Regions from separate parts of the Homo sapiens genome. Here region 1 is linked to region 2. The links come from fine-mapping of genetic effects on gene expression. Tissue or cell type: whole blood. Region 2 holds a variant in brackets; the other region holds the start of a gene. All regions are shown on one strand. Distances are from middle to middle.

Evidence for each region. PIP is the estimated chance that this variant, and not a neighbour inherited with it, causes the effect.
Region 1: MYO9B starts here. The variant in region 2 is fine-mapped to the expression of MYO9B in whole blood (INTERVAL, PIP 0.99).

Annotation. Positions count from the first base shown.
Region 1 is chr19:17,073,283-17,078,404 of GRCh38, reverse strand. It overlaps MYO9B (myosin IXB), which reads right to left and starts at 2,628. Exons shown (of 40, transcript NM_004145.4): 1 at 2,531-2,628. It overlaps HAUS8 (HAUS augmin like complex subunit 8), which reads left to right and starts at 2,953. Exons shown (of 11, transcript NM_033417.2): 1 at 2,953-3,011; 2 at 5,070-5,122. The coding sequence starts at 2,983. RefSeq lists silencers at 2,192-2,486, 2,481-2,830 and an enhancer at 3,011-3,210.
Region 2 is chr19:17,106,017-17,111,206 of GRCh38, reverse strand. All of the region lies in intron 2 of MYO9B (myosin IXB), which reads right to left. Among named protein-coding and RNA genes, the nearest start is that of SNORA118, 16 kb to the right of the region's middle. RefSeq lists enhancers at 301-802, 766-875, 2,908-2,957. The variant T/C (reference allele first, on the strand shown) is at 2,554.

The DNA.
Region 1 (5,122 bases), 33 kb after region 2:
CCACGCCGGGCTAATTTTTGTATTTTTAGTGGAGACAGGGTTTCTCCATATTGGTCAGGCTGGTCTTGAACTCCTGACCTTGTGATCCACCCACCTTGGCCTCCCAAAGGGATTACAGGCCTGAGCCACCGCGGCCCAGCTTGAACTCCATTCTTTCTGAAGAGGAAGTGCAAAGTTGTCGGGGGCGGGCATTAGCGTGTCCGTCCTCTGGGTCATAAGGATTCACCTCTGTCCCCAGGAATCTACCAAGTGTCTGGCACAATCAACCCTTGCCTAACTGAAATCTAGGCCCACCCAAGACACACCATTTGGAAGAGATGAGGAATGGGAAGCAGCAAGTTAACAAGTCCATGTGGGGAGAGAATAACGAATCCTACAGCCAAACAGAAAGGGGAGATTCCCACGTCTCTACCTGCTCCACTGAGTCACCAGACTGGACCCGAGGGACGGTACTGCCTCGGGATTTCCAGAAATTTGCAGTTTCCAAAGCTTTGGGAATAGGTGCAATGTGCAAAAGCACCTTCAACACCGCAATTTTCTATTTGGACGATGAAGAAGCGGTTGAAAAAAAATCATTTTTGGATACAAACTGTCGAATGGAAAACGGAATAAAAGTAGGATCATCGCAGCCAGGAATGGAGAGTGGGGGTGCTGTGAGGAGTTCAAGGCCGGGAGCTGGGGGACATGGACTGGAGACAAGACGGTGATGAGAAGAGTTGGGTTTCAAGGTTGAAAAACGCTGATGGAGGTCAATTCATTCATTTTGCAGGTGAGAGGTCAGAAACAGGCACAGAGACTTGACCAAAGCCAGGATCTCCAACACAGTGCTCCCCCCACAAGACCCTGCTTGGCCATTCTCTAGCGGCAGGGAAGAGGCGATTGCAGGGCTGCGGGATCAGAAGATCCCGGTCCTGTTCTGTAGGCCAGTGCAAGCCTACAGTTCAATGTTTGCAGGAGGCATGACTGTGGGCTGTCACTGCATGTCCTGGGGCAAGCCAGGCCAAAGCCACCTTTCCTAAAGGCCAGGATATTCTGGAAGTGAAGGGGGTGCTTATCTTTCTGTGGCCCTCTTTATATTCCAGCTATCCGGGTTCATCTCCTGAATGAGCTATAAACTAAACATAAGCTGGGGTTCCCCAGCCCTTCTGGCAGATCCCAGATAAAGATCCCTACAGTTGGGAAAGGGGAGAAATGAATGCCAATCAAAAGCACCCTGCACAAAGTCCCTGCCAGGGCCACAAGAGCCAGGCCTGTCAGATGTGAATAACTTTCCTGTAGCCCAGGTCACCTCCGGCTGCTCCTGGACACCTTAAGATTCTGAAGACTCCAACATCAAAAAACAAACCGAGTTGGGACTCTCTGGCTGGAAAGTGTCCCCACGGGCTCCCACCTCAGACAAAGAGGCAGAGAAGCCATCCCTTAAAGACCCCTGGCCTCCAGGGTGCCCAGGAAAGAAAGGAGGGCTCGTGGCTGTCGTGCCTCTCCAGGGCTGAGCTCAGAGCAACCGGGGGACAGATTTCCTGTATGTCGTTTTACCCATTTAAGTCCAAGGATGCAGCTCTGCGGAGGTGGCGACAGTCCTGTACATGAGGGTGCATGCACACTCCCTCCTGAAACACAGTTCCGGCCCCACAACCGGCCCTGAGGTCCCTTCCTTGGATCCAGGGAATCCCAGAATCCTGCTAGTCCTGTCTTAAGGGGAGGGTGGTGAAGTTTCCAAGACGAGGACACTGGCACAGAGGGTGTTGGGACTCGTCCCAGGTCACCCAGCTGTTAAGTGTGAAGTCAGGAGGGACACGAATCAAGAGGGGAGGGTGGGGGGACGGAATCTCCAGGGGCTGCATCTCAACATCTATCTGCACGGGGCCACTCTAACCCCTTCCTTCTCTTCCCTCCTCTCCGGGCCCTCCCTCCCTAAGCCTACCCTCAGTTCTTACCGTGACTTCTACTCCGTTTACTTCCCTTCCAGCTCCCATTTCCCCGCTTCCCAATAGCCGGCTGCCGCATCAGTTAGTTCAGAACCCCCCGCATTTACTGAGCGCCCACTGGGGGCCAGGCGCCGCCCTCTTCTCAGACACCCTTCCTTCAATCGCGCGGGCAGACGTCCCCAGATCGGTCTCGCACCCCTTCCCCTCAACCGCACCCCGGCTGTCCCGCCCCTGGCCTTGCCCACTCCCCCAGCCTGGGCCTCTCGTTCCCGCCTCCGTGCCTCCCCACAACGCCGTTTCCTGCGACCCCCCAATTACCACTTAAGCCACGTCCTCTTCAGAGAAGCTGCTCAAAGCCACAAGACTCACCCCCCCCACGCCCTCGAACTCCCTCACCAGCTCCATCCCCATCCACTTTCTCCTTCACCGTCTCGCTTCCACCTCATCCCCAGCAATCTCTCCAAGACCCCCAGGCTCGTTCCCGCCCCCTCGACCCCTGCCGTCGCGTCCCCCATCAGCCCTCAGCTCCGTCCCTCTTCTGCGCAGCCCCCAAAGGCAGGCTTCGAGCTCGAGTCGCCAACCCGAGGCTGCCTGGTACTCACCTGGCCTCGGCCGCCGCGCGCCGCCGGTCCCGGGCCGGGTCCCCGGCCGGACGACCGCCTGCCAGCCCGCCGCTGCTCGAGCCGCTCCGCCCCGCCGCGCCCGCCGCTCCCCCGCGCGCTCCCGCTTCCGGGTTCCGGAGAGGCGGGGACGGGGGCGTGACGCCAGCGCTCCTAGGGGCGGGGCATCGCGAAAAGCCCCGCCCCTACTGTCCGACAGATCAGGTCCCACCCACCGCCCCTACCCACTACCGCCGATGGTGGGCGAGACCAAGTGCGAGGGGAGGACAGGCGAAGCGCGCGTCTGGGGCCGCGCTCTCCACACTTAGCCGGCGCTGCCTCACGCCTCGCAGCCACCCCTCCTGCGTCTCCACAAATGGTCCGACCCGCAAGCAAGGGGGCGGGTCCGGCTTTGAAAAGCCGGCGGGTCGGGCCTTGAGGTGGAAGGCGGGAAAATGGCGGATTCCTCGGGGCGAGGCGCTGGGTGAGTTGGGGCTTCCGCAGGTCTGGATTTGTAGACGCCATAGGGCTGGAGAGGATGGGCAGCGGAGGTGGGGAGTTAGGACCCTCGGGGTGAGTTCGGGTTCGACCCCGCCAGGAACTGCGCGGGCCCCTGAAGACCCCGATGGCGTGCTGCCTCTGCGCATGCTCCGGAGCGCTGACACCCGACCGGCCCTGAGTTCCGCGTCCTCGGCTGGGACGCTGGGCGACCTCCGGCAAGCGGCCTGACCGCCCAGTGCCTCGCTTTCCTCCGCTACGAAATGGGGCCGATGACGCAGCTCAACCTCGTAGGCGTCGCGTGAGGCTGAAACGCGCTTAGATCGGCGCCTGGGTCTTTACTGTGATGTCGCTCTTGGAATTATCGTTATGCAGTGAACAAGTGTTGGGCGACCAAAGTGTCCCCTTTAATCCTCCCACGCGCTTTATTCTGTGCTCCCAGTTTACTGAGGAGATGATGGAGACCCAGGGAGGGGAAGTGACTTGCCTAGGGTAACACACCATGAACAAGAAAGAAGTTGAATACTGACCGAGAGCTAGGCATGAATGATCATGAGGCTATATTTGTCTAGTTTTGTTAATTCTGCCAGTGTTGATTGTGCCAGGTGCAAACTGAAGTGAAATTGGCCAGCAAGAGGAATCACTCCACCGCCCCTTGCCGTAACCGATAGATTGACAGTAGCACCTCCCAGGTACAGGTGCAGTAGCTGAGGCTCGCACAGGTTGTAGGGACCCCCCTCAGGTCGCAGCAGGTTCACCCAGGAGCCCATTCGGTTTGAGGCCACAGCCCTAGCACAGTCCCCAGAGGGAGTCTGTGCTCTTGTCTCTTTCTGGCTGTGAGACTGCCCCGGGGGTGACCTATGTAAAACCTGTGCGTCTTTGTTTTGCAGCGACGAAAAAGCAGGTGTGAACAGTTAGGAAGCTGTCGGGTTAGGAGGAGCCTACGGGCGAGCGCAGCTGCTGGCACCTGGCGAACATTTGCTAAGTTGCCTCTCCCCACGGTGGCCTGGAAGTGTCCCCAACATTGTCTGGGTCTCACTTTGGGGTCCTGGGAGCCTGCTTCAGAGGAGGTGGCCGCAGGGACCAGTGGAGCCGCCTTTGGTGATGGGAGCAGGAGTTACAGTGCCCTGGCCTTGGCCCTGCCCCTCCACTTGCCCATCCACTTGCCCCTCCTGTGTTGCTGGTGTCTGTTCTTGGATCCCTTCTTTTCTCACCAGCTCAGGCTGAAACCCTGAAACCCCTAGTCATCCCAGATTCTCCCTCTCCTGCACCCCCACAGCTGATGAGTCAGCGATTCCTATCTCAGGGTCCCTTCTTTCCTATTACATCAGGCTTCATTCTATTTTTATTTTTATTTTTATTTTTATTTATTTATTTATTGAGACGGAGTCTCACTGTCACCCTGGCTGGAGTGCAATGGCGTGATCTTGGCTCACTGCAACCTGTGCCTCCCGGGTTCAAGCAGTTCTCCTGTGTCAGTCTCCTGAGTAGGAGGGACTACAGGCGCATGCCACCACCCCAGCTCATTTTTGTATTTTTAGTAGAGATGGGGTTTCACCATGTTAGCCAGGATGGTCTCGATCTCCTGACCTCGTGATCCGCCAGCCTCAGCCTCCCAAAGTGAGGTACCTGCTGGGACCACTCCTCGTACCTGCCTGTCAAGATGTTGTTCTTCCCTTTCTGGGAAGGAGCTCTGTGTTTTGTTACCACTGTGTCTCTACTGGAATATAGTAGGTGCATCAATGTCTGGTGAATGAATGAACCCAGGGATAATTTGAGATCTGCTGTGATCTCTTCCACAGAGCTCTCATTACCCTCCTCTCTTCTCAGTTTGGGTGTTCACCTATGCCTTCTTGCCCAGGTGACCAGGGCTGGCTGCTCCTTGTGTCCCTTTTCCTGTTGAGGTGGCCCACCCTCACTGAAATTGTCCTCTGGCAGCCCTTGGACTGGGCTGTCTGAGCTTCAACTAGCAGAGGCACCTCGCCGGCTTCCCTGTGCTTCTTGGGTAGTGAGGTGAACAAGACCTCTCTCTCTTCTCTTGCAGGAAGCCTGCAACCGGCCCCACAAATTCTAGCAGTGCCAAGAAGAAGGATAAAA
Region 2 (5,190 bases):
CCCACATCAGGATGTGGTGAGGACGTATGAGATGACGCCCCCAATGCTGGGTGGAGGCTGGCATCCAACTGTGTCTTGCCCGACAGACTCAGGGGGAAAGGACGTGGCCCAGGCAGGTGTCCTTGAGGGCAGAGGTCGAAGTGGATAATGGCACTGTGGTCTAGGTGACCTACCCCAGTGCTGACTGTGGGTGGGGGAACAGAGCTAGTGGCCTGGCTGATGGCAGAGGGGCTGGGGGAGTTGGGGGAAACATGAGACTGGGTTTGTAGGGCCCCTAAGGAGGAGCTCAGGACCCGGTCCAGGTGGGTACGAGTCCTAGGTTCCTTTGCCCCAAGAGGGGGGTCTGGGGCAGTGGCACGTTCAGGACCCTTCCTCAGTCCCTCACTGGAATGTCCTGGGCATCGGCACAACTTCGGGTGAGCTTGGCTCCACCAGCTGGGGGCGTCCCTCTGCGCCCTGCAGCCCATCACTGTCACCGTGTCCCACTGTGGGCCGGGCCACAGGGGCTCCATGGAGTCCAGGGACCCTTGGGACAACAGCCTGACAAGCAAGGATCCTTATTTTATTTCTGCTTTCAGAATGAAAACCCCATGCACGCTGCCAGCTGCCAGCTGCACTTGCTACAGTTCAGGACAGATGAAGGGAACCCCAGCCTTTGGCCCCCTGGACTCAGCCTGCTCTCAGAAGGGCACCGAGGCGAGTGCCTGGTGGATCTGAGGCTGTGGGCAAAGGGAGAGGAGCGTGTTCTGGGTGTGCTTTGCGGCGAGACCCCATGGCCGATGCTGTAAGGTGCTCTATCCACAGCCCCTGGGCTGTCGACGGGCGCCTGCACTGGGAGGCTAGAGGCCATGTGGAAGATGGGGAGACTCATGGCTTCTGCAGCCCCTAGACTTGGTGAAAGGTGATGGCAACAGTTAACTGCAGTGGCGGGCAGATCAGCTGATTGGAACCGGCTTTCCACAGTGCTCCCTTCCTGTTTTTTGGTCAGCATTACACAGCGAGGCTGCAACCCTCGCGGGGGGCGGGGGTCAGGGGGTGCATCCAGCGACACTCAAACCTCAAAACAGCTCAACTTCTCCTTTCGGGGAGCTGAGAAAAAATCCCCAATCGATGCAGCGAGTTGTGCTGATCTCCGGCTTTCTGCAGCCCGGGCGAGAGAGGGGAGAGCAGAGAGGCAGCCTGAACGGGGGGCTGGGGCTCAGGCCGGGTTCAAACCCCGGGTTAGGCTTTGGCTCTCTGCGGTGTGGCCTGGGGAATCTACCTGCAGTGGGTTGACTTGTGGCTTCCCAAAAAAGACATGTCTAAGTCCTTACCCCCAGAACCTGTGACTGTGGCTTTATCTGGAAACGGGGTCTTGGCAGATGTCATGAAGGTAAGTATTTTGAGATGAGGTGATCCCATGAGAGAAAGGCAAGGGAGATTGGACACACACAGGGGAGAAGACCAGGTGACGACGGAGGGAGAGGGCAGAGTGATGCGGCCACAAGCCCAGAGCTCCAAGGATGGCTGAAGCCACCAGAACCCGGGAGAGAGGCCTGGGACAGATTCTCCCTCAGAGCCTCCAGAGGGACCCAGCCCTGCCCACACCTTGATTTTCAACTTCTGGCCTCCAGAACTGTGAGAGAATCAACCCCTGCTGTTTGAGGGCTCCCAGCCCGTAATACTTTGTTATAGACACCTCAGGAAACTCACACATCCACGTGTCTCTCTGGGGCTCAGTTTCCTCATCTTTAAAATGGGCAGAGCTGCCGTGAGGGATTAGAGATGATGGAGGAAAATCACGAAGCCCAAACCCTGATACCCAGTGGGCCTGAGGTCTTATTCCTCTTATTAGAAAATGATGGCCGGGCGCAGTGGCTCATGCTTGTAATCCCAGCACTTTGGGAGGCTGAGGTGGGCGGACCACGAGGTCAGGAGATCGAGACCATTCTGGCTAACACGGTGAAACCCCATCTCTACTAAAAATACAAAAAATTAGCTGGGTGTGGTGGTGAGCACCTGTAGTCCCAGCTACTCAGGAGGCTGAGGCAGGAGAATGGCACGAACCCGGGAGGCAGAACTTGCAGTGAGCCGAGATCGCGCCACTGCACTCCAGCCCGGAGACAGAGAGAAACTCTGTTTCAAAATAAATAAATAAATAAATAAATAAATAAATAAATAAATAAATAAATAAAATTAAAAAAAAGATTCTTGGGGCCAGGCATGGTGGCTCACGCCTATAATCCCAGCACTTTGGGAGGCTGAGGAGGGCAGATTACTTGAGGTCAGGAGTTTGAGACCAGCCTGGCCACTATGGTGAAACCCGTCTCTACTAAAAATACAAACATTAGCCGGGCACGGTGGTGGGCGCCTGTAGTCCCAGCTACTCGGGAGGGCTGAGGCAGGAGAATCAAACCCAGGAGGCAGAGGTTCCAGTGAGCCGAGATCGTGCCACTGCACTCCAGCCTGGGCGATAGAGCAAGACTCTATCTCAAAAAAAGAAAAAAAGAAAATGACTCTTAAGTTAGCACAGAACAGAAAGAACTCACAGATAATTTCTAAAAGCTCAGTGGC[T/C]GCAATGAACAGTGATTGGGTCTTATGGGAAGAACTCAAAGACAGCTGTTCTATTCCCAGGGGGTGATTTGTCCCCAGGGGACAACGGGAAGCTATTTTGTTAATACCTCTCTAATCAATGAAATGTCTGGGGACACTTCTGGGTGTCACACCTGCGGGGTGGGGAGTGCTCCTGGCATCTGGTGGGTGGAGGCCAGGGATGCTGCTCAATGTCCTTCAATGCACAGGATGACTCCCTCCCCAGAGAACGATCCGGCCCTGAATGTCAGCAGAGCCAGGTTGAGAAATCCAGCTCTCAGTGAAGACAATCACATCCCTTTGCAAACAGTCGCCCCAGGAAGCACGTTTATTGCCATGACGTGGATTTGGCTCAAGCCTGTTTTGGAAGCCGGCGTGGGCACCACCCTCGAGCGGCTTAGAACCGCTGGAGAAAACTGGCCTCGCCAGCCCCCGCTGCTGAGGCCCCAAGCAGGTTGGCCTGGCAGGACCGGGGGTCTGACTCACAGAGGGTGACTAATGGCTGTTGAAGGCATACTGGAGACTGTGCAGGCGTGGAGGCTGGAGGGAGCTTTGCTGGCATCCGGGGAGGAACTACCGGTCCCCAGGACAATCGCGGATCTGGGGCAGCCCTCAAGGACCCAGGCACAAGATGTCACCAAGTGGGACTTGCCAGGGGCCAGGTAGGACTTGAAGCAGACCAGGTGGGGCTGTATGGGGGATGCTGTGGGCTGACTTGAGCCCCCCGCCCCCAAAATTATATCCACATCCTCACCCCCAGAAACTGTGTATGTGACCTTATTTGGAAATAGGGTCTTTGCAAATGCAATTAGGTAGGATGAGGTCATGCCGGGGTAGGATGGGCCCTACATCCCATGAGTGGTGTCCTTGTTATAAGAAAGCCACGTGAAGACATGGACACACAGGAAGAACGCCCCTGACGACAGAGGCAGAGACTGATGTGACGTGGCCACAGGCCAGGGCACATCTGCAGCCACCAGAGAAGCTGAAGAGGCCTGAAGCATCCTCCCCCAGAGCCGGGAGGGAGTGCGGCCCCGTGGACACCTTGATTTCAGACTTCTGGCCTCCAGGACCATGAGAGCCTTAATCCCTGTTGTTGGAGACTCCCTTGCCCCTAACACTTAGCAACAGGAAACTTGTCCACGCCCTGGAGGGTCCTAGTGAGATGGCGCTGTGGAGGCAGCAACGTGGTGGGGAGGACATGGACCCTGAACTGAGACCTAGGTGGCAATCCTGCCTCCTGGCCGTGCCACTTTGAGACCCTGGGGCTGGGCGTGTCATTTCTGCGGGGCTCAGGCATTTACCCACCTGCCTAGTCCCATTTGGCAAAATGTCTGACATGGTAAATGTTGGATCTACCCTCTCATTCATTCACCTACTAAATTTTTTTTGTTATTTTTTTGAGACAGGGTCTTGCTCTGTCACCCAGGCTGGAGTGCAGTGTGTGATCACAGCTCACTGCAGTCTTGAACTTCTGGGCTCAAGCAATCCTCCCACTTCAAGCTCCTGAGAGCTGAGACCACAGGCATGCACTGCCATGCCTGGCTAATTTTTTATTTTTATTTTTAATTTTGAGACAGATTTCGCTCTTGTTGCCCAGGCTGGAGTGCAATGGTGCGATATTGGCTCACTGCAACCTCCACCTCCCAAGTTCAAGCCATTCTCCTGCCTCAGCCTCCGAAGTACCTGGGATTATAGGCGCTCGCCACCACACCTGGCTAATTTTTGTATTTTTAGTAGAGACGGGGTTTCACCATGTTTGCCAGGCTGGTCTCGAACTCTTGACCTCAGGTGATCCACCTGCCTTGGCCTCCCAAAGTGTTGGGATTACAGGCATGAGCCACTGCACCCAGCCTAGTTTTTAAACTTTTTGGTAGAGATGGGGTCTTGCAATGTTACCCAGGCTGGTCTGGAATTCCTAGGCTCACGCAATCCTCCTGACTCAGGACTCAGCCTCCTGACTCTGGGATTACAGGTGTGTGCCACACATGCTGAATTTTCAAGATCACTGTTTTATCTCGGGTGTGGATGCCAGGCACTGATGTTTTGGCCTGGAGAGCCGTTGAGCCCCCTGGCCACCTGCTGGGAGGACACTGGGGCCACTGGCAGTTTCACTGTGGCTGAGTCTCAGAGCTGGGATGACGCCAGGGCGGCCTCGGGAGACCAGAGCTGGGTTGCATCTACCTCTGCTCAGAACCTCTATAGCTCCTGTGTCACCCAGAGTCTTCCCCGAGTTCTACCTGGGGAGAATTTTGTGTTGACTTTGGCCACCACATAGCCCAGCACCTATATCATAGCCTGCCACACAGCAAATGCTCACACAGCAATGAACGGGCGGTCTGGGTATATAATGTAATGCACACAAGACAAGCCATATTAAAAACAGCTGAGGTGGGAGGATCACTGGAAGCCAGGAGTTCGAGACCAGCCTGGAGAACATAGTAAGACTGTGTCTCTACAGAAAATTTAAAAATTAGCCGGGCATGGTGGTGCACACCTGGAATTCCAGCTACTTGGGTGGGAGGATCGCTTGAGCCCAGAAGTTCTCGAGGCTGCGGTGAGTTATGATTGTGCCACTGCACTCCATTCTAGGTAACGGAGAGAGACCCTGACAAGAAA